Linked DNA regions of Homo sapiens: all the other regions are linked to region 2. Evidence: fine-mapped expression QTL. A gene starts in region 2. Each other region holds a variant in brackets. All regions are shown on one strand. Distances are from middle to middle.

The links. PIP is the estimated chance that this variant, and not a neighbour inherited with it, causes the effect.
Region 1: its variant is fine-mapped to the expression of XPC-AS1 in subcutaneous fat (GTEx, PIP 0.98).
Region 3: its variant is fine-mapped to the expression of XPC-AS1 in whole blood (INTERVAL, PIP above 0.99).

The regions. Positions count from the first base shown.
Region 1 is chr3:13,336,012-13,342,927 of GRCh38, forward strand. It overlaps NUP210 (nucleoporin 210), which reads right to left. Exons shown (of 40, transcript NM_024923.4): 22 at 5,985-6,112; 23 at 5,737-5,872; 24 at 4,225-4,287; 25 at 3,843-4,022; 26 at 1,826-1,906; 27 at 776-907. Among named protein-coding and RNA genes, the nearest start is that of NUP210, 81 kb to the right of the region's middle. The variant C/T (reference allele first, on the strand shown) is at 4,028.
Region 2 is chr3:14,146,270-14,153,185 of GRCh38, forward strand. It overlaps XPC-AS1 (XPC antisense RNA 1), which reads left to right and starts at 3,293. Exons shown (of 2, transcript XR_001740603.2): 1 at 3,293-3,333; 2 at 3,573-6,916. XPC (XPC complex subunit, DNA damage recognition and repair factor) reads right to left here. Exons shown (of 16, transcript NM_004628.5): 11 at 6,066-6,147; 12 at 2,545-2,679; 13 at 2,293-2,462; 14 at 1,639-1,732; 15 at 1,021-1,110. RefSeq lists enhancers at 2,284-2,968, 4,586-5,086.
Region 3 is chr3:14,168,940-14,175,855 of GRCh38, forward strand. It overlaps XPC (XPC complex subunit, DNA damage recognition and repair factor), which reads right to left. Exons shown (of 16, transcript NM_004628.5): 2 at 3,928-4,123; 3 at 1,499-1,611. Among named protein-coding and RNA genes, the nearest start is that of XPC, 6.2 kb to the right of the region's middle. The variant T/C (reference allele first, on the strand shown) is at 3,594.

The DNA of each region.
Region 1 (6,916 bases), 810 kb before region 2:
ACTGTTTGTGTTCCATGGGAGCAATCTGGGGGAGCCCCCGGGCACCAGGGACAGGACTCTGTTCCCACTGGGTGGGGTCGGGGGGCATTCGTCCCACACTAGACAAGCTTCAGGCAGCCTTTAGGAAATCCTATCCCTGGGCTTTGGTCTCTTTCCAGGCCTCCATCCCCACTGTCCCTGAATCAGGCAGGGAGCGACCTTTCAAGCCACCCTCCACTTGGGTCCTGTGTGTCCAAGGCCCACCTGGGCTTGGGCCTAGAGTCACAGGGGCTGGTGCCCAGTACCATTTCCCCACTGGCTTGCTGGGCAACCCTGGGCAAGTCCCTTCCCGTTTCTGGCCTCAGTTAACACAGACAGACTTAGTAGTCTCCCTGGCACCTTCCAGCTCTGACATCTTAGGAGAAGCCAGGGCCCCTCGCTGGGCTAAGGGAAGGGGAATTTGGCCTCTGGGATGAACCAGGAGAAACCGAGGGCTGCCAGGCATCATCTCAGAAAATGGTCAGAAGCTGCAGACTCTGACCTCCCAGGACTTTTGTGACTTCCTCACACGGCTGCTTCTGTTGGGAGAGGCACCTACTCACCCCGTCTATGTGTTTAGCATTTGGGAGAAGGGAGTCCCGATGAGCCTCGGGAGAGGGAAGAAAGTGGGCGGGCCTCTCTAGGTGTGAGGGTGGGGACTTCCTGTGGGACAATGTGGCAGGAACCCTCCCTGCCACTCGGGGTGCTGGCCTGGGACAGGGGTGGGAGGTGAGCTCTGGAGGGGGTGGTTACCTACCTCGTGGTGCCGCCCTCGGAGGTCCAGGACGTCCCGCTTGGTGACAGACCAGTGGAAGGTCAGGCCTGGCACGGCATTGCCAAAGGAGAAAGGGTTCTGGTGGTTGGTGATGCCGGTGACATAGATGGGCATCTGCAGGGGAGAAGTCAGGCCCAGTGAGCAGTAGCTCCCAGCACTGGGAATGCCCCCAGAAGCTTTGCTGCCTCCTTCAAGCAGTGGGAGATGAACCCAATTCCTCCCCAACTAGAGAAGAGCATGGCACAGGTTTGGGAATTTTGATGAAATATCAAACGAGCAAACCAGAGGTGGGACTGTTTTCCCCATACTGTCCCTCCCCTGCAGCGGGCTGCACCTCTCCATGGCCAAGATACTCATTTCCGGAAGGAGTCCCTGGAGCTCTAGGAGGCCATGGGTCCCCCAGCAGCACAGCTCGTGCTGCCCCACAGTGCTGGTTCCTCCGGGCCCCTCTCTCCTAATCTAGCTGGGGTCCCTGCTCACAGGGCACGTGTGGGTGGGGTCCCTGGCTCCTTTAGTCTCTATTTGCTGTGTCGGCTTGAGGGCACAGGCGGAGGCAAGACGGCAAAAGGCCACAGCAGGTGTTGTGCCAGGCTGCCCAGTCCACTCCCACTGCTGCCACTTCCTAGCTGTGTGGCCCTGGGCACGGGTCTTAAGCTTTCTGTGTGTTCATTTGCTCATCTGCGACACGAAGATGGTTCTGACACCAGCCTCCCAGGGCTGCTATGAACACCAAATGGATTAATGTCCAAGACAGCACGGAGTTGAGTTAAGTGCCACAGTCACTGTGCTCCTGTTAGGCACCTGGTACTATTCCAGATGTGGGAAGGTGACAGGCCAGCAGGAAGCAGGCCTTCATCAGTGGCTACCAGAGAGCAATGGAGGGTGTCTCCCTGGGTGGGGACAGGTGGGAAGCAGGCCCTAGATACCCGGGCCAGGCAGATGGAGGAGGTGGAGAAGCACTCTAACTTGAGGACAGGGTCCCAGCAGTGGCTCTTCGGGAACCAGGATTCAGAGCCCAGGAGGTCCCCTCACCTGGGTGCCCGTCCTCATCCGCATGATGGGGGCGCGGATCCTCACGGCCCTTAGCAGCAGCACCTCCACCTGCACGAGGTCCTGGGGAAACAGGGTGGCACTTAGGTGTGGGGATGCAGTGCTGGCCAGGGATGTTTCAGGAAGGGACCCCTCAAGGGAAGCAGGCTGCGGCTCAGAGTCTGTGGCGAGAAGGCCCCTCAGGATGACCAGCACCATGCTCCTCTGCCGAGGGAGGCCTGGCTTTGTGAGTGGCTCTCCCCTCATGGGCCAGCCACTGCCTCTCCCAAGGCCCCGCAGGTCCCAACCCAGTCCCCTGAGGCTGCTGCCCTGTCTGATCCAGCTGTTCCAGGTCAGCACTGCAGACTTGGGGCCGGGGACTGGTGCCTGCTCTTCCTTAGGCCTGGCTGCCCTCAAGCAAAAGGTCTCCAGGCCCTCCCAACCCCAAATCCAGCCTGCCTGTCTCTGACTGAGCAGGGTACAGGGACGAATGCAGGAGCCCTGTAGAGTCTGATCAGAACTTATAACCTCCTTCATTCTGAACTCCACACTCCTATTAATCTGGCCAAAGACTAACTCTCCTGGCTTCTTCCTAGTGCTGCTGAGTCATGCTGAACTGAGGCTATTAAAACCCTTAGACTCTCTGACGTGCTCAGGCTGAGCCCATCTTGAGGCTCATGACTTGGGCTAATGCCTGGCACACAGTAAGTGCTTGAAAAGCACCCATTCCCCTCCTTTCACTCATCTTTCTGCTCAGTCTCTTCCTGCTAGTCCTGGCCCACCCCACGGCCTTGGGGTGCTGGTTGTGTGCTCTGGATTGGACAGATGGAACTGGAAGCATCTGACCAGAATCACATTCCAGGCATGGACAAGGCGCCGCAGGTGAAACCTCTGCCTGCCTGGGCTCAGAACATGCCTTTCAGATAGGGCTCGTGGTGCAGCCCCTCCACCTGCCAAGGACCACCAGGGCCTTTCCCCAGCACCTCCCCAACCTGCCAGATGGGGGACCTAGAAGGGAGGGTGCCCAGCAAGGTTAGACCACAAAGACAAGGAATACGCAGGGCCCTGTGCCCCTCTTGCTGAATTTCTAGCCAGCTGCCCTTTACCTACGCCCTCAGGAGAAAAATCAGCCAGCTCCTGAGGCTGCACTCCTTTTTAGAGAAAAAAAACCACAGAGTCTCCTGTGGTCTGGAATGTCACGCTCCAGGAAGCCCATCTGAACCCTACCCCATCCCCAGGACAGGTTTTTACATCCCCAAGTCTTTCTCTTTGTCTTCATAATTGACACACACTGGGAAAAGGAGTAAATCAATGAACTCAATGACGGATCACAGTCAGCCTCTGAGAACAAGCATTTCCCTGCACCCCCTCTAGGGCGGTGCACTTGCCAGCTTCTGGGGTGCTGTGTTTACAGGTTCTGAACTCAGGACTGCACGGACTGCTTCCAGGGGACCTAGTTCTCATGAGGAATGGTATGACTGACTCTGAAACAGGTTTCTGTCCACAGTTGCATTACACATCACAGAAGGCTCTTCTTACAGACCAGGTTTCTGGCGCAGCTGTGAGTGGAACCCCAAAGCAGCCTTCCGAGATGCTTCTGCAAGTCACTGCTGGCGAAGGAGGTCAGGGAGAATGCAAAGGCCCTGATTTTAGCCCTGAGCCTTGAGAGGATTCAAGGAGATGAAGGCAAAGTGCTCAGAGCAGCATCTGCCTTCACCATGATTGCCATCATCCTCCACTGGAAGGGCCCTTTGGGGCCGGGAGTTGCTGAACACCCTGTCCCATAAGGAGCAGCTGGAAGGACTGGGAGACTCAGCTTGGAGAAGAACAACCAATGGGGGTCTGGGTGCTCCCATATTGGCAGGGCTGTCCTGCACCAGGGCCCCTGCAGTGACTGCAGACCCAGGGGGCAGAAGCAGCACCCTTGGAGAGGGGTGGTCCTCAGAGGTAGAACTCAAACACAGTAAAGAGGCTTCTGTCCCAGGCACAGCTGCCCAGTCTCCAATAGCACGCCTGTTACCTGAGAGATGATGACCACCTTGCCGGTCTCTGCATCCACTGCCTGCACGAGCCCAGACACAGTGCCGTTCCCGATGGCGAGGCCCTGTACCAGCCCAGCAGCGCTCACCAGCGCAACGCTCTCATTGCTGATGGAGAAAAGGATGTTGGACTGAGGCTGGGGGCCGCCCTCGGAGGTGACCTGAG[C/T]GGGGAGGAAACAGCGGCGTGTCAGTGCCCGTCATGCCAGGCAGCCCGCACCTCCCACTCAGAGAGCCAGGGCCCCAGTGCAGGCAGCTTCTGCCTTCTTCTCCCAGTCACTGCACGCAGGGCCAGAGGCGGCGTGCCTGGAACCAGGTGGTGGCCTGCACTGGGGCTGGAGCAGGACGTGGCCTCTTGGCTCTCACCTGCATCGTGGCCCCGATAAGCAGTGTCACCTTCCTGGGCATCAGCCTGAACGGGGGAAAGACCTGTTGAGAGACACAGGAGAGAAAGGACTACTGTGCCCCAAGCCCATGGCGCCAAGCATAACTCACACACTACATGTTTCATGAGAGGAAAACCTGGGACATGGACATCACTTCTCTCTGAGCAGTGACCAGAGGGCCCAGGGTCCTGGGCCAATGCTGGGGGCTGTCTCCCAGCCACTGGCCGAGGCTCCCTGGTTCTCTGGGGTGTGTTCTTCTGTTTGTGACTGTGTTTCACTTTCCCTAGATGTTAAAACCCAAAAGCTGGGCCGTCCCCTTGGAGGGATGGCTTTTATGCAGTTGAGCCATCCCCTTAGAGCAGCGGTTCTCAGTGTGTGGTCACTAAGCAGCAATGTCAGCAGCGCCTGGGGACACATTAGCAATGTACAGCCCCAGCCACCTGGCCTGTGGAGCCAGGGGTGGCCCCACAGGACAGCCCTGCCGATATGGGAGCACCCAGACCCCCAGAGGTTGCTCTTCTAGCACACCCTCCGGATTAGCCTGGGAGGAGACCAGGGACGTTGGTGCCACTCTTTGCAGCAGGTGAAGCCCCCACCTGCTCCTCCTGAAACCCCTACAAGAGCCTGCCTGGCAAGAGTAGGTGAGTGGACGCAGGAGGTGGCCAGGGTGCTACTTGTGTGGGAGTATCGGTCTCTGTAGCTGTGCTATTGATGGGCAGAAACAAATTTCTCATCACCAGAAGAAAGGTGCACCTCCATCTAGAGACACAGATGGCACCCACCTGCTTCGGATCACAGATTAATGACGCTCACCAGCCCCCGAGTGGCCCGGATGCAGGGTGGATGCTGGCAGGGCTGGTTTAATGCCGCTGCTGTGAATAGACTTAAAACAATGCCTGGGCCACAACTGCCATGGCCTGTGGCTGCAGTGGGGCTCCTGTCATAACCTAATGCCCCGAGACAGCCCCATACCACACACTGAGCTGGTGTGGGGACCTCAAAGCTCCCTTCATCCAGGAATCACCTACTTCAGGAGTTCCCTTTATGATACCTCTGCTCACGCAGCCCCTGTGACAGGTGCCCACTGCCCTCGAAGTGCCTGTTCTAAGGCTCAGGACCAATGGTTAAGGAGTTCTTCTACACATGAGTCAGCATCTGTCTAAGCTTCCACCCAGTCAGTGCTTTCTGGGAATAGTCCTGGTGTGTCCCCTTGCCATGTGACCAGGCACACCCCTTCTCTGAGCCACACAATCCCCCAAGTCACAGAGGAAAGGTCAAGTCACTTGGCCCCCTCCCTCTGGTTCTGCCAGTCTAACTTTGCTGCCTCCCAGATCCCTAGAGCTCGTAACAGCTGCCTTTTGATGAGAGGACATTGTGGGACACAGATTTTTATATGGCTTCTCTACAGTAGCTTCCTGGACTGTACTATAAAGACACTCCCAACCCCCAGCACTGGGCTGATCCCACATGGTGTGGGAAGAACTCGTCTTACTTCAATCTGTTGTGGGGCTGAGTTGATTCTCTGTCCAGCTTTATTGGTCACACTTGCAGTTAGACTGGTCTGGCCGATGGCCACACCGCGGATGAGGAATGTGATGGTGTAGTTGTCAAGGGCTTCATCAAGGGCCCTGAAACAGAGGGAAGGGCTGGGACTTCTCCAAGACCACCCCGTGGGAAAGGCTGCAGCTGGGGTCAGCACTGTCTCTGAGGTGCCCTCCTCTGACCCCTAGGAGAACTCACACCAATGTAATGATCGGGGAGGCTGCTCGGAGCTTCAGGTCCATAAAGGGGAAGTATTTGGCAAGGAAGGGCTTCTTGTGCAAGTCCAGCACGCGGACGTATGCCTTCACTGTCTTCCCAATCTCCACCTGCATCATGGGGACAGAGGTTCAGGGGCAGCCTCCAAAAGACCAATCCTACCATCTATGGTGCTCCGTGACTTTCTGAGATAGCATCACTAACCTCAACCCACAGACCTGGGAATCAGGAGAGTCACCCAGGTTGACTTCTGGACTATCAGCCAGTCAGCAAATGAAAATCGATGAGGGGGAGCTTGGGGATACTTAGAGGCATAAATTCCACATTCTACTCTTAAGTAACTAATACACTAATTAGGGAGATGAGACACCACTTAGAACAGCAGCATCCAGTAGGAGCTCAATAAATGCTCACTGACTGAACAGCTCACACCTGGCAGTGTATAATACAGTAAGAACTTTAGGAAATAAGAATCAGAAATACACAGCGAAGAAACAGATGATTAGCAAACAGCAGTGGAAATGAGATTATACAAGGAGTATGTGAGGCTGGGTACAGCATATTAGCTTCTTAAGGAGCCTAAGCCACATGAACACTCCCCTTTTAATTACCAGCCCTTCTATCCACTGAGGAACCTGACCGCAACCCTCTGGAAGCCCAGCTTCAGTCACCTCAGATATCTGGAGTAATAAAAATTCTGTATCAGTGTGAAAGATAAACCGAGATCTATCCCTTGTCTCTTTTTGCAATGGCGCTTGGCATGGGTGAGTTGTACTCATTTGCCACTGACACCCCAGTGAACCCAAAACCTATATTCTGGGAAGAAAATACATGCTCAGCAGGGCATGTGCCTCGTTGGTTAATAACCTACACCAGCCAGAAGACATGAATTCCCAGGTCATGGCTAATTTAGA
Region 2 (6,916 bases):
GGGAGGACAAGGGCATGGGACAGGGCAGGGAGAGAGCCCAGACCCTTCTTACTGAGCCGTCCCAGCCTGGGGTGCATCCAAGCAGACACTGGAGCACCTGCTACGAGCTGAGTGCAGGGGAACACAAGGATGATGGCTGGGCAGGAAGCTGCCCTCTAGGAGCACACTGCCTCATCTGGGGATGCCTGTGATTCGTGCCTTGCATTTGCTACCTCATTTCTGGACCAAAGCACATGATGTCTTGAACGGGCAAGATGCACAGTTCAGCCCTCGGAGCCCTAAGATCTGAGGCGGCACTCCCTGCCAGCTGGGATGGCTAGGGAGGGTTTGGATGGAGAAGGCGGCAAGGAGCTGGTCAGAACATAAAGTCAGATGAAGGGCTTTTCTCCACCAGAGGGACTGGAATGAGGAGCGTGACAAAAAAATGTTGAAAGGCAAACAGGCAGCACAGAGGGTTGGAGAGAGGGAACAAAACATGCCAGAGCAGTTTCTGCTGTGTCTGACACAGCACTGACTATACCATGTAACTGGGCCTAGGGTCCATCTGCCCCAGGGAGGGGCCCCCTTGAGGGCTGCATGTCAAATTCACACCTGTGTCCAAGCCTGGCCTGGCACATGGCAGGTGCTGTGAGAGAGGTACTGAGCGGGCCACTGCAGGCCTGCAGCATGGTCACAGGCACTGGGAACACTGGAAGGCGGAAGGGTGCACCAAATGCAGGACACTTGGCCCTCCCTATGTGTTCAGCGCCAAATCAGACCCATGGCATTGCTCATGTGGACAGTAGAAACGGGGACACTGGGACAGGGCTTGGGGCAGAAGAGCCAGCTGAGGCCTCACTCCAGGGACACCTTTCCCAACAAGGTAAAAACAAGCGGCCTTAGAGACAGAAGACTGAGGTGTCCTAACACAAAGCTATCCCTGACTTGAGGCTGGGGCAGAATCTGGGCCAGGCCTTTCTGAGCTGCATCTCCAAGAAACTGACCCTGAGCTTGTCTTCTCTGCAAAGAACCTGCACTGACCTTGGGCCCGTAGCGACGCTTCAGCCTCTCCCTGATGAGCAGACCTTTGGCCAGCAACTTCCAGTTCCCTAGAGCCCGCTTCTCCTTTTTCTGCAGGCAAAAATGAAGTGGGAGAAAAGTGTTAAGCACTGACATTTTCAGGAAAAATATTAAGATGGAAACTGTGAATGTAAAGACAGATATATACACCACTTTAGAATATAGCCTCTCCTTCACACCAAGTCTCACTTCCAAAAAATTGATCTGATTTACAAAGTGATATACTATACCTGAAAGCCACAAAAACAGATAACTTTTTAATCGTTACTGACTCCAAAATCTTTAGTGGGTGAGGTCTTCCAGAACCTGGACACAGGCAATTCAAGACAGAGGCAGGTGTGGGCAGCAGGGGCAGTAGACCCCAGAGCCCGGACCCAGGCTCCTCAGGGACAGTGATAGTCTGCGGGGTGGGCAGGAGCCTGCTGTATTCAGTGCTCGCTCCCTCGGGTGCCTGCCATGATGTCAGAGAGGGCTGGGAAGAGCCTGGGAGCACACGGAGGCGGCCTGGGGAAGGAAGAGGCCACCCGCTGAGTGTTGCTTCCCGCTTCTGCTGTCCCTCAGTCCTGCATATGCGCTTACCTCCTTCTCCTTCCTTTCAATGACTGCCTGCTCATTTTCCCAGGCAGTCAGGAGCACGTCTTTGAATTCCTCGCAGACGATGTATCCATCAGTCCTGTGGGGACACAACGCGATGTCAACCCTCGAACCTGCTGCCTGCTCTGCCTCTCCTCCCTCCCCAGTTTGTGGAAGACAGTGGGCCACATCTGAGCACTAGGGGTCCTGAAGGATGTCGCGGGTCAGCCAGTGTCCCACATCCTCCGTGCAGAAGGCAGGCCTGTGGAAGCTGGCACTGCCTCTTCCTCCCCAGATTCTGCCGAAGAAAGCTGGGGTGAAAGCCCCTATCCAGCCTCACCCATCATGGAACAGAGCTCACTAACCAGGCAGCTGCCGGGGAAAGATGCTGACTGTTTTTTGCTCACTAGCCTGTGAGTCCCTAAACCTGGGAAGAACGTTTTAATCCAGCATTACGATGCCAGTTTCATTGGCTCCGTTCCCTCTGGAGGGAAGCCAGAATTGGTAAAGCACTGACTTTGCAAATCCAGTGTAACATCCTGAAAATTGGAGCCACCAGGCCTCAACTCCCAGCAGCCCCATGCCAGCTTTCCATCCCCATCTCTGGAGCCACCCCTCCCCATCCCTGTGTTTAGCCTCCATCGAAGGCCCCTCACGCACACGGGATGGGAGTAGCCGCCATGGAAATCAAAGCCAGTGATGGCCTGGACACAGTCGATGTCCAGCTTGCGGGCCACGCGGTGTAGATTGGGCAGGTTCAGCTGGACACAGCCAATAGGCATCATGCTGGGCAGGAAGAGGTACACATTCCCAAACTCGTTCCGGGGCACCTGTGTCGGGTGAGCAAGTCAGCATTTGGCCAGCAGGGGAACAAGGCGGCCTGGTCCTGAGCCCTTCTGATGCTGCCCTTACCTTCCCGTCCACGGCCACTGGGGGCTGATACTCCTCTGTCTGCCAGTAGCCAAACAGGCCCAGGTCATTTTCTTCCCGCAGCTGGGGCTCAGCAAGTCGGGCTTTCCGAGCACGGTTAGAAAAGCCTTTCACCATCTGCACCAGAGGACACGGCCACCGTTTACAACAAAGGCATCCAGTTCCTCAGCACCGGGCCAGGCACCATGCTCAGTGCCGCATGCCTGGTACCTGGTGAACCCTCAGAACACACCTACCAGCTGGGGTGCTTTTTCTCCCTTTTTTTTTTTTGAGACAGAGTCTCGCTCTGTCGCCCAGGCTGGAGTACAGTGGTGCAATCTTGGCTCGCTGCAACCTCTGCCTCCTGGGTTTAAGCAATTCTCCTGCCTCAGCCTCCTGAGTAGCTGGGATTACAGGTGCCTGCCACCACGCCCGGCTAATTTTTGTATTTTTAGTAGAGACGGGGGTTTCACCATGTTGGCCAGGCTGGTCTCGAACTCCTGACCTCAGGTGATGCACTCGCCTCAACCTCCCAAAGGGCTGGGATTACAGGCGTGAGCCACCGTGCCCGGCTGCTCCCCTTTTCTTACTACAAGCACTAGCTAACATTTATGGAACATTCTCTGTCCCAGACACTATTCTCGGTGTTTTTTGTTTTTTTATCCCCCTGAGACGGAGTCTCACTCTGTTGCCCAGGCTGGAGTGCCCTGGTGTGATCTCAGCTCACTACAACCTCCACCTCCCGGATTCAAGTGATTCTCGTGCCTGTCTCCTGAGTAGCTGGGACTACAGGTACCCGCCACCATGCCCAGCTAATTTTTATATTTTTGGTAGAGATGGGGTGTCACCATATTGGCCTGGCTGGTCTCAAACTTCTGACCTCAAATGATCCACCTGCCTTGGCCTCCGAAAGTGCTGGAATTACAGGCATGAGCCACTGCGCCCAGCCTATCTTCAGTGCTTTATATGTTATTATTTAATTTTTTCAACAAACCCACAAGGTAGGTCTTATTATTGTTTCCATTTTACAGATGAACACCACAGACGGGGTAAATGATTTGCCTAAAGTCACACAGCTCGTAAGGGCCAGAGCCCACACTTTCATCCACTAGCCTATATTCTGTGCTGTCATCACTGATAGCAGTGACTGAGACTGAGAGACAAAGTCACTTAAGAGCTGATGGCTGGTAAGTGACAAGAACCAGGATTTACAATTCAGGTAACTGTCCATCAGTAGAGCCTGTGTCTCAACATATAACCTATGTCTGCTCACACGCCCTAGAAAGCACTGACAGTTCAGGACTCCCAGTGTGCTCCCCAACAGCGTGCAGTGGCCAAGGCCAAGATCTTCCCTGGGGAGTGAAGTGGTGAGAGGGGCGCAGGACAGGCAAGGACAGAGTCACGTAACTCTTAGAGGAGTCAGGCATGGGCGTGCGGCTGAGGGCTGGCCCCTGGGCCTCAGCATACAGACTTCCTCTAGTGCAGGGGCCCACAAGCTTGTTCTGTAAAGGGTCATGCGTGGCCTCCATCACATATTCTTTATTCTTCTCATTCTTATAACCCTTTAAAAATGTGAAAAGCCATTCCCCAGGTTGGGGGTGGCCTGCGAGCTCTCATGTCCATTCCTGCCATGATCTCTGGGCGCACCCTCTCTGTCACCACTTCAGGGACAGAGGGACTCTGAGTTCTGACAACCGTCCCTTTCTGAGAAGCCATTCACCCAGCACACTGTTCAGTAAACTTCCACTGGGATCTCCTGGAGACCAGGCCATGACCCAGTCATGAAGGAGGGATGGAGCGAGGACAGTCTTTGCTCTTAGGAGCTCAGGCTCCTGCAGGGGAAGAGACAGAGCTACGACTCAGCGTGATGAGTACAGGGTGGAACAGGAGCTCAGAGGCAAGCCATTGCCCAGCCCTGAGGACAGTGGAGGCAAGAAAGGCTGCTCAAAACAGGTCCCGCCTGAGCAGAGGCTTAAAGGGGCAAGGGGTTGCCCAAGAGAACAGGGCTGGACCCCACAGGGCACAGAGGTGGGAGAACACTGGGACCTGGGGCCTAAGTCCTCTGGAATGCAGAGGCAGTGAGCACCAGAACATCACTGTGCACCATGGGGAGGGTGCGGGACTCAGACTAAAGGCGCTGGCCAAGGTGGGACAAGGATGGCCAAGATGCACAGAAAGAGCCTAGTGACTGACAGGGGAATGGATTCAGGCTGGGAAGGAGGCTGTGGCTGTTGCCCAAGCAAAAGATACTGAGGCAGGAGCTGGGGTGGTGGGGATCAGAACAAGGGGTGAATTTGAGAGATTTGGGATTCCAGAACTGTGCTACCATGACAGCCACCAGTCACGTGTGGCCACTGCACACCTGAAACGTGGCTGGTCTGAACTAAGGTACAGAAAGTCAAATACACAGAAGATTAGAGAGACTTAGGAACAAAATGGATTTAAATATCTCATCAACACTTTAAAATATTTCTTACTGCTGAAATAGTATTTTAGATATATCTGGATATATTTTAATGTTAAAATTCCACCTGTTTTTGGTTTTTAATGTAGCTACTAAAAAATTTAAATGTGTGGCTCACGTTACATTTCAACTGAACACTGCTATGCTGGTTCCAGCACAAAAGACAGGTGAGATGGTGCAGAGAAAATCCTCAGCAACCCTGCAGGCCCAGGCAGGGGGCATCGCCCACTCCAGCCTGCTGCTGGCAGTGACTGTGACCAGCGCCTGCAGCCTTTCCCACTAAGCGGAGGCCCCTCCACTCCCCACTCAGCTTCCCGGAGTCTTGCAACCCCCAAGGACTCCTGGGGTCTGATGAGAAGTAAATGGTCTCTGTGATCAGCCACTGTACACTTCCGGTCGTACGGAGCTGTGTGTCCTGTGAATAGTCTCTGTGGGACCTCGCTCGGTTCGTGTTCCTCAAGAGCAACCAGCCTAACAGTGCCGCAGCACAGTGTGAAAGGAGCACTGGCTTTAAGGCAGAGCCTGGGATTCTCACCTGGGCTCTGCTCTGCCATTTTACTAACTGTGGGGACTTGGACAAGTCACTTGCCCTGAGCTTCAGTTTTCTCATCTGTAAAATGGGCATCATAATGCCAATTCCTATGGCTTTTGAGGCAACAGAGATCACATACATGCAAAATGCTCAGTGAACTGCCAAACAGAAGGGCAATCTGACTGGAGAACGTGCTGCTATAAAGCAGGGCTCTGACCTCCCAGGACCCAGTAACTCAATTCCAACCTGTAGAACCTTTGAATTCACAACAGGAGTCTGAGGCCTACTTTTTGGCCTAGATTTCTTTTGTGTTTTGGAAGATCCATTTCTTACAAATGTCTTATTAATAAGACAATTTAAATGTTTCTCTCCTCCTTGAATCCTGCTCAAGCCGGGAAAGTGAGACATTTCTGATCAGGATCCTGGGCAGGACTGGGAGGCTCATCATCACTTCTCTGCCCCCAGCTCTCCCGCTCAGCTACAGGCCTGTGTCACCACTCCCCACAGGGACCCCCCAGCTCCAGTTACCTTGTAGGGTACTTCTCCAAGCCTCACCACTCTTGCTTTCTTCAGCCACGTGTCCCTGGAATGCAGAGTGTGCACACAATCCCTGTGGAACCAACACAGGACACAAAGGTAACTCAGTCCACAGCCCCACTGCGGGAATGCGGGACAGTGGAGAGCGCAGCCCTGCAGGCTCCCTCCTCAGGTTCAGCCACCCTGGAGCAGGCCGAGCTCCTAGGGGGCCCAGAGAAGCTGTGCTAGGCAAACAGCCTTGAACGTGGACTGCCTGTCTTTTGGGGGATGTGTCCACTTACAAACCCTAATCTGCAGCCTTTGTGCCTTGCCTCCACCACTCCTCCCCTTCATAGGTTTTCTTCTCCTCTGCTGTCCAGAGCCTGTGAGAGCTCCAGCTGCAGACTATCAGGATGGGGTAAAGGCCGCTGTGCGCAGGCACACTCACGTTTACTACCACCACCAAGCGAACACCTGCTGAGGCTCTGATCTGCTGTTAACACCATGTGGGGGAGGGAAGTGTCCAGGAGGGGGCAGTGAACCCAAAGGAAGGCTGCAGAGAAGCCAACTATAATAAGCTAATAAGCTATCACAGAATCAAGACACCTGCACATGGAACAGTCAAATGATTCCTGCAGGCAAAGTTCCTCTGGCTTCACTCTTCCTCCCGAGCTAAGAGCTCACCAAAGCCGTGCAAATCTACTTTCCAATGAGGCTCAACCCCTCCCTTGCCAAGCCATTTTTAATAAGGCACGCCCATCTCATTAGTTTGCACCCCCTTCACTCTGTCCAGGGAGCGGCTCCAATGAGCAAGGGCACCCCATTTCCTCCTAGTGCAGGTTCAGACCCTTACCCACAGAGGA
Region 3 (6,916 bases), 23 kb after region 2:
TCTAATTGAAAACTTCATTAGCAAAAGTTCCTTAAAAGAGGCTCTGGGCCTAGAAGCCATGACATCTTACTGGCAAAGAATGCATCTAATGCCAGATCTTGGTCTCTATACATGAATCTCTATTAAAATGAACCACAGCTTCTTGAAGAAAAAAAGGCTGGTTTCAAGTCTACAGCAAGAAAAGTATAAGCTGAACAAAAATGTTCTCAAAGACTAATGAGGCCATGTCAAAAGGACATGGTAGTACAGCTAGCTTAAAGGTAGCATGACTAGAAGAGGAACAACCTGACATTAGAGGTGGCTTAATCAATGCAAGATGAGGTTTAAAGCATCATCTAGGAAGGATTCTTGGAAAAAAAATAAAAGTTTAATCAAAATTACATGTCTTTGGACTTAGTTTACAAGAAATACAGGGGATATTGAAACAAGTTTAACACCACCATGAGATGTGTGACTGTTTATCAGACAAAACTAGAACATGAGACAGTCTACAAAACAAAAGACTAGGATCCTTCAAAAAAGGCAGTGCTATGAAAAGCAAAACAAGGCGGTAGGTGGGAAATACTGCTCTATATTAAGAGAGTAAAGTGACATAAAGACCAAATACAAGGCTTGGTTGGATCTTGGTATGGAAAAAGAAACAGGCATAAAGGATGCTTTCATAACAATTGGGGACTTATTTTTCATTTTCGTAGGTGTGATGAGGTCATTTTGTCATGCAGGAGAATGTCTAATTATTAGGAAATGCAGGCTGAAGTATTCAGCAGTGGAGTATCAGAATATCTACAACTTATTTTCAAATGGTTCCACAATGAATATTTACAGAGAGAAACATACATTCAATGTGGCAAAATGTTAATGAACCTAGGTGAAGGACATATATTACATTTTTCACTCTTTTTATAAATTTGAACACTTTCAAAATAAAAAGGTGAGGAAAAGTCAGGCCAGACAGAAGGAATCAGGGATGATAACATTAGCTGGTATTTACTGTGAGTGTATGATACATTAGGCCCATTACATTTGCAAACTTTCTTTTCCCCACAATAATCCTACAGCCTATACTGTGAATGGCTCACACTAAACATTCAGTGTTTACAGAGTGTTACCAATGAGAAAACTCAGTTCAGAGAGGTGAAGTTACTTGCTCAAGATTAAATTACTCACTCACACTGCCACCTAAGTGGCAAAGTTGAGCACTGAACCCAATTCTAACTACTTTCAAAGCCTGTGCTCCTTCTCCTAAATAGTGCTGCCTCTCTATTTATATCTACCCCATTGACAGTCACCAGAGGAAGAGAGTAAACAGCCTTCTTTGGTAACTTGGCCATGAGTTTTTCCATATATATCAAAGCAAGTCCCTAGTACAACCTTATCTGTGGTCTAATTAGCTCAAAAGAAAACAAAAGGATTGCAATTAGTGATCTGACTCCAAACAGAATCAAACAAAAAAACAAACAGAACCAAACAGTTCTGAAAACAAAGAAAGATGTTTCACCTTCAACCTCTTCCCAATCATTTTCACTTTCTTCCTCTTCTTCATTGCTGTCTTCATTCATGGTAGCCCCTCTCTTCAGATGGTGTGCCTTCTTGAGGTCACTTGGAAAGTCCCTGTGTAAAGACCACAGGAAGGAAGATGAAGAAGACTCAGACATCCTAGTGTTCCATTCAAGCTAAATGGAATTTTTAAAACCCCTCCTATTTATTGAGAATCTGTTGCAACTATTTAAAGATGATTAGTAAGCTCTGAGCCTCACTTCCTCCATCAACATGTGTTCCAAATCTCATCAAGATGTGCTCTGATCATCTGTCTAATTACTACCAGATGTGCTGTTAAAAAACCTACAATCTAGATCGTGTGAAAGAAAACATAGCTGTGCCTGGACATGACAAGGAAAAATTAGAAGACACCAAAATAATAATGAGTTCCAGAACTGTGATATCTGTGTGATATATGTGCAGTTGGAGGCCAGAAAGAACAGAATAAAATCTCCATTTATATATCCTACTATAAGCCTACTCAGACTTCTTTTCCATCTTTAAGAAATATGATGTAAGGAGACTGAAATTCATAGCATTCTAACTTCAAGCAGGGATGTAACTACACATAGGTGAGTCATAAATAACAAGAGACATAGACAGCTAGCTAGCTAAGTAGATAATAACATAGATAAGTAGCTGGCTAAACAATGGCTCAAGGCTAAGTACTTGCTGATACGTAATATATTTCTGCAAATTCATATATAAAATGTGTCTAGAGTATCCAGTTACTTTTAACTTGTGTAAACTTTGGCACTTGGTACCAAGTGAGAATATTATCTAGGATTTTGGTATAAACATTTAAAATAACCAATCATCAATCTTGAGCTCTAATAATACACTCTTTTTTTAGAGTACCACTTTCTCTCAAAACACCAGCAATAAAAATTTCCCCTTAGAATGAACATAGCAGAAATGACCACAGTCAATGCTCAGGGGAGAGGGAAAGGGGGACCCAGAGCTTTCCTTGGCAGTATCGTGGCCTATCTCTATGTATATGTCTCTGGAGATAGAATTCAACTAGTGAGGGGAGGCAACTGGAAAGCAGTAAGTTCAGAGGTATTCTTCAGAAAAGTCTAGGGAAGGCCAGGCGCAATGGCTCACGCCTGTAAGCCCAGCACTTTGGGAGGCTGAGCAGGGCAGATCACCTGAGGTCAGGAGTTCGACACCAACATGGTGGAACCCTGTTTCTACTAAAAATACAAAAATTAGCTGGGCGTGGTGGTGGGCACCTACAGTCCCAGCTACTCAGGAGGCTCACTTGAACCTGGGAGGCGGAGGTTGCAGTGAGCCAAGATTGCATCACTAGACTCCAGCCTGGGCAACAGAGCGAGACTCCATTAAGGACGGGACCGGGATGGGGACGGGACGGGGCGGGACGGGAAGGGAAGTCTAGAGAAAAGGAGAAGAGATGGATCATGGCGGAAAATCATCATGCTGTCCCGTGTCCCTTCCTGTGCCCTCTACTGGACTACTCTCCCATCCCAGGACTAGAGGCTGCTGGAAAAGCTGATACTGGCAGTGAGGATTTGTTTATGAAGCAAATGAAAAACTATCCCTCTGTTCTTCCTCTTCTCCCCACCCCTCAACTTTCTTAGGAGGCAGAAAATCAAGTGTTCCCTGGGCTCATAATCACTGTTCACAACATATTAATATAAATGCTCATTCATTGCAAAAATACTTGTTCAGTTTCTGCCAAATAAAAGGGCCTGCAATGGATGCTACAGGGCATATGAAAAGGAACCCCACATGGTTCCAGCCCTCTGAGAGGTCACAGGGTAGTAAGCCTGGGTATGTGGCATGGTAACAATAACTGGCAGACATATCACACTCCCTAGAAGCGCTACAGGAAGTCAGAGGAGAGAAGGGGGAAGAATCAGTGAAGCCTCTGGAGTAGGTGGTTTCAGATCTGCATCTTCAAGATGGAAGCCAGCAAGCACTCCAGGTAGAGGGAATACCATGAGCACAATGCAGGTGTAGAAAGTAGGAGAATGTGTTCAGTGAATGATGAGAAGCTCAGGTGGGCCGGAGAAGAGCGTGCTTGAGGACAGTAG[T/C]ATGAGATAAAGCTGGAATGGCAGGTAAATATTTTGTATACATCTAATATTTTTGTGTAGTAGAAAGAGCACTGGACCAGGAGTCAGAAGACCTGGGTTCTCCTGCTTTTGCCACTGTCCAGCTGTGGAAGCATGAATAAATCACTTACTGCATGCTGTCACTGTTCTTATCTGAAAAGTTTCCAGCTCTTACCGGTCTGAGTTGTACCTAGAAGAATTTAAAGATCCAATCTTCCATGGACCCCAGTGACAAGTAAGAATAGAGGTTTTCATTATTCACAATTCTCTGATGAGAAAAATCAAGACCCGAGACAAAGCTTTGCAGACATCTCACCTGAGGTCATCCCCATCGCTGAGGGCTTCATCCTTTATAACCTTGAGGTTTTCAGATTTAACAGTCACCTTGGCCACTTTCTTTTTTGCTGGACCATCTGCTGAACCCCCAGGATGACTGCAGCCTCTTTTCCTCTTTCCTTGTGAAACTTTGGAGAGAAGGCTCTTCTTTGGGGGTTTCTCATCTTCAAAGGCATCTAGGTGACAACACAGAACATAAGGTGAGGGGTGGAAGGAAAGGTGGAGGCAGTGCAGCTTATGGGCAGGGGCATAAAACGGCTCTATGACCTGTCTCCAAACCCCATCTCCATCACTGGTTCACCATCCCCTGTCTGGTCAGCAACCAGCTCTCAGCTTCTTCCCACCTGCGGCTAGTCTATATTCACAGTAAAAACCATCTTCCTTTATCAGCACTTTACTTCTCCTATGACTACAGAAAATACCATAGGACTCAAATAAAACCTAACTTCCAGATCTTAAATGTCAGCTAACCTCCTGCCAGGAAAATACAACATCCATTAATTAGCACCTTATTTATTATCTGCCAAAATTAATTGTCTTAGGGATAATGTACTCCTAAGTAAAATGTTAAGTACATAAACATGTCCAAGTTTTACCACAACATCATTACTATTAATCTACATTTCTGCCAACCTTCAAGACCAAACTGCTCAAAACACATACTGCTCTGAAACCTTTCCAATGTAACCCAAATGGCACTCATATACCAACCACCTCAGCAAACTTACAGTTGGAAAAAGACAGCAATAATTCAAAAGTATTTTCTTAAAGTAATTATTTTTTTGTTAAAGGGAAATAAAAAATGCATAAGCTGCTGGTTTTAGTCAAATTGGGGTATCTAAAATTATGGTTTATTTACATATAATAATTATATTAATAGATTAGTTTTAACAAATAATATGGCAGGGAAGGATAGTTTTCTATTTTGCAAATATATTCACACAAATTATCTTGAATCTGAAATAAATCTTTTGTCTTTGCATGACTCTGCTTCAATTAATTTTAGAAAATAAAAATACTCTACCTTTTATTGAGGTTCCAAAAGGGATTGCAATATTAACCTAAAATATAAAATTATTTAATAATTCAGTCTTTTCATTGTTTGTCTTGCTGACTCTCTGGATGGGTATTTATATTCCACAAGAATATACTTTTGCATGAGGGAAAAAAGACTCTCCCTTCTGATCTAAATGAAATCATGATTAAATGTTAATAAAATTCATAACAAAGGAGCATTTATTTTAATGTTAGATCATTGATTCCGTTGTTTCTTTAAATGTTTTATAAAAAAGGAATTTATGCATTCCCATTTTTAAACATTGTATGGAAACCAAAAAATAAGGAAAAATTTTGAAGTACAAATTATTTCAAAATTAATTTTTTCAAATCTGAGAACAGATTGCCTACTCCAAGGCCAGAGGTTGCATAAAGCTTAAGATTTGACAGTTTGAGGAGGGTGCCCCTAAAATCAAGATTTCTGGATCTTACAATGGTAGTTAGCCCTCTAATAATAGGCAAAGATGCTAAACACTTCAATTTCTACTAATCTAAAAAAATGCACGTAGGAGGATACTTCAGAGGCATCACAAACTTTTCTAGTTGGTTAAAAAGCACAGCTTTTATTTCCGTTTGAAGAGAAAGGTAGAGGAGTTAAAAGGGAAAGGGGGATAAAGGAAACACAAAAACTCTGAATCAAAAGGATGTTCATAGTATTCAAAAGCATCTAACAATAATCTGAATGTCCAACCATGAGATAATTGTTAAGTAACTTATGGCAGAGCCACACAACAAAATATAATTGAGTCATCCTTTAAGATAAAGAAAAACGATATATGATGTAATGTTACTCATGCAAAGTTGATTTTACAGTATGCTTTCTGCTATATAAAAAACAGACTAGAAGGAAACAGACCACTATTTCATGGTGGCTATTTCTGGATGGCAGAAATATGGGTGACTTTCTGTTCTCTGCTATTTTTTGGTCCCTAAGCATCTAGAGACTCTTTTCCAGGACTCTCCAAAATCTTGAGTTATCTAATATGCCTAACCAGACTCCTTGAGTTCAGTGTTCTTTCAGTAGGGCAGGAATTACCACTGTGGTCTGCTTGCCCATCTACTGGGATTTAATAAGAACACCGGAGTAAACCTTCCAGCAGCAACTCATAGCACTCAGAATAAAATTCCAACTCCTTAGCTTGGTATCCAAGCTCAGGCCCTTGCTCACTTCTCCTACCCAGCCCCTCGCTCGCTGTGTCCAGCCAACTGGCCAAGTTCATTCCCTCCTAAGAGTGTTTAAACACACTGTTCTCTCTGCCTAGAACTCTTTTCCCCAGAACTTCCTATGAATGGCTCAAAATTACACTAAATGCCTCAAAATGCCACCTCCTTACAAAGGCCTTCCCTGACACTGATTCCCATTTAGCTGCCTCTCCCCCAGCCCCATATAAGTTTGAGGGTTTTTCTTTTCATCTATAGAAGCATTTTCTGCTATGTACCCAAATAAGTTTTATCACAGCAGTCTTAGCACAGGGTGATAGCTCTTATCATCATGTGAATCCGTTTTTTTTTAACTTGTTATCTGCTCTAAGTACCCCTCCCCCCAGATTATAATCATGAGAGCAGGTGCCTCATCTGTCTTGTTCAATATTATCCTAGTACCTGGAACAGTGTGTGAAAATAGTAGGCGCTCAATAAACAGCTGTTGAAGGAATTAATGGATATCACTGAAGGTGTTAACACAGAGAAGAAATGAAAAGAAACCAGAGGTGCTTTAGTAACACAAAGGAAATCATGTGGAAGCCTGTTTTCTTTTCTCCTATTTGTCAAAAGCAGCCAAGTATCACCTTCATTTGCATGTACAGGGGTGCTATTAAAACCTACACTATTACAGTGTTAGCAACTACACTGACAGTCACCAAATTATTGTCATCTGCAGCCCAAACCATACTTGCTAAGTCTATGCTTCCCCA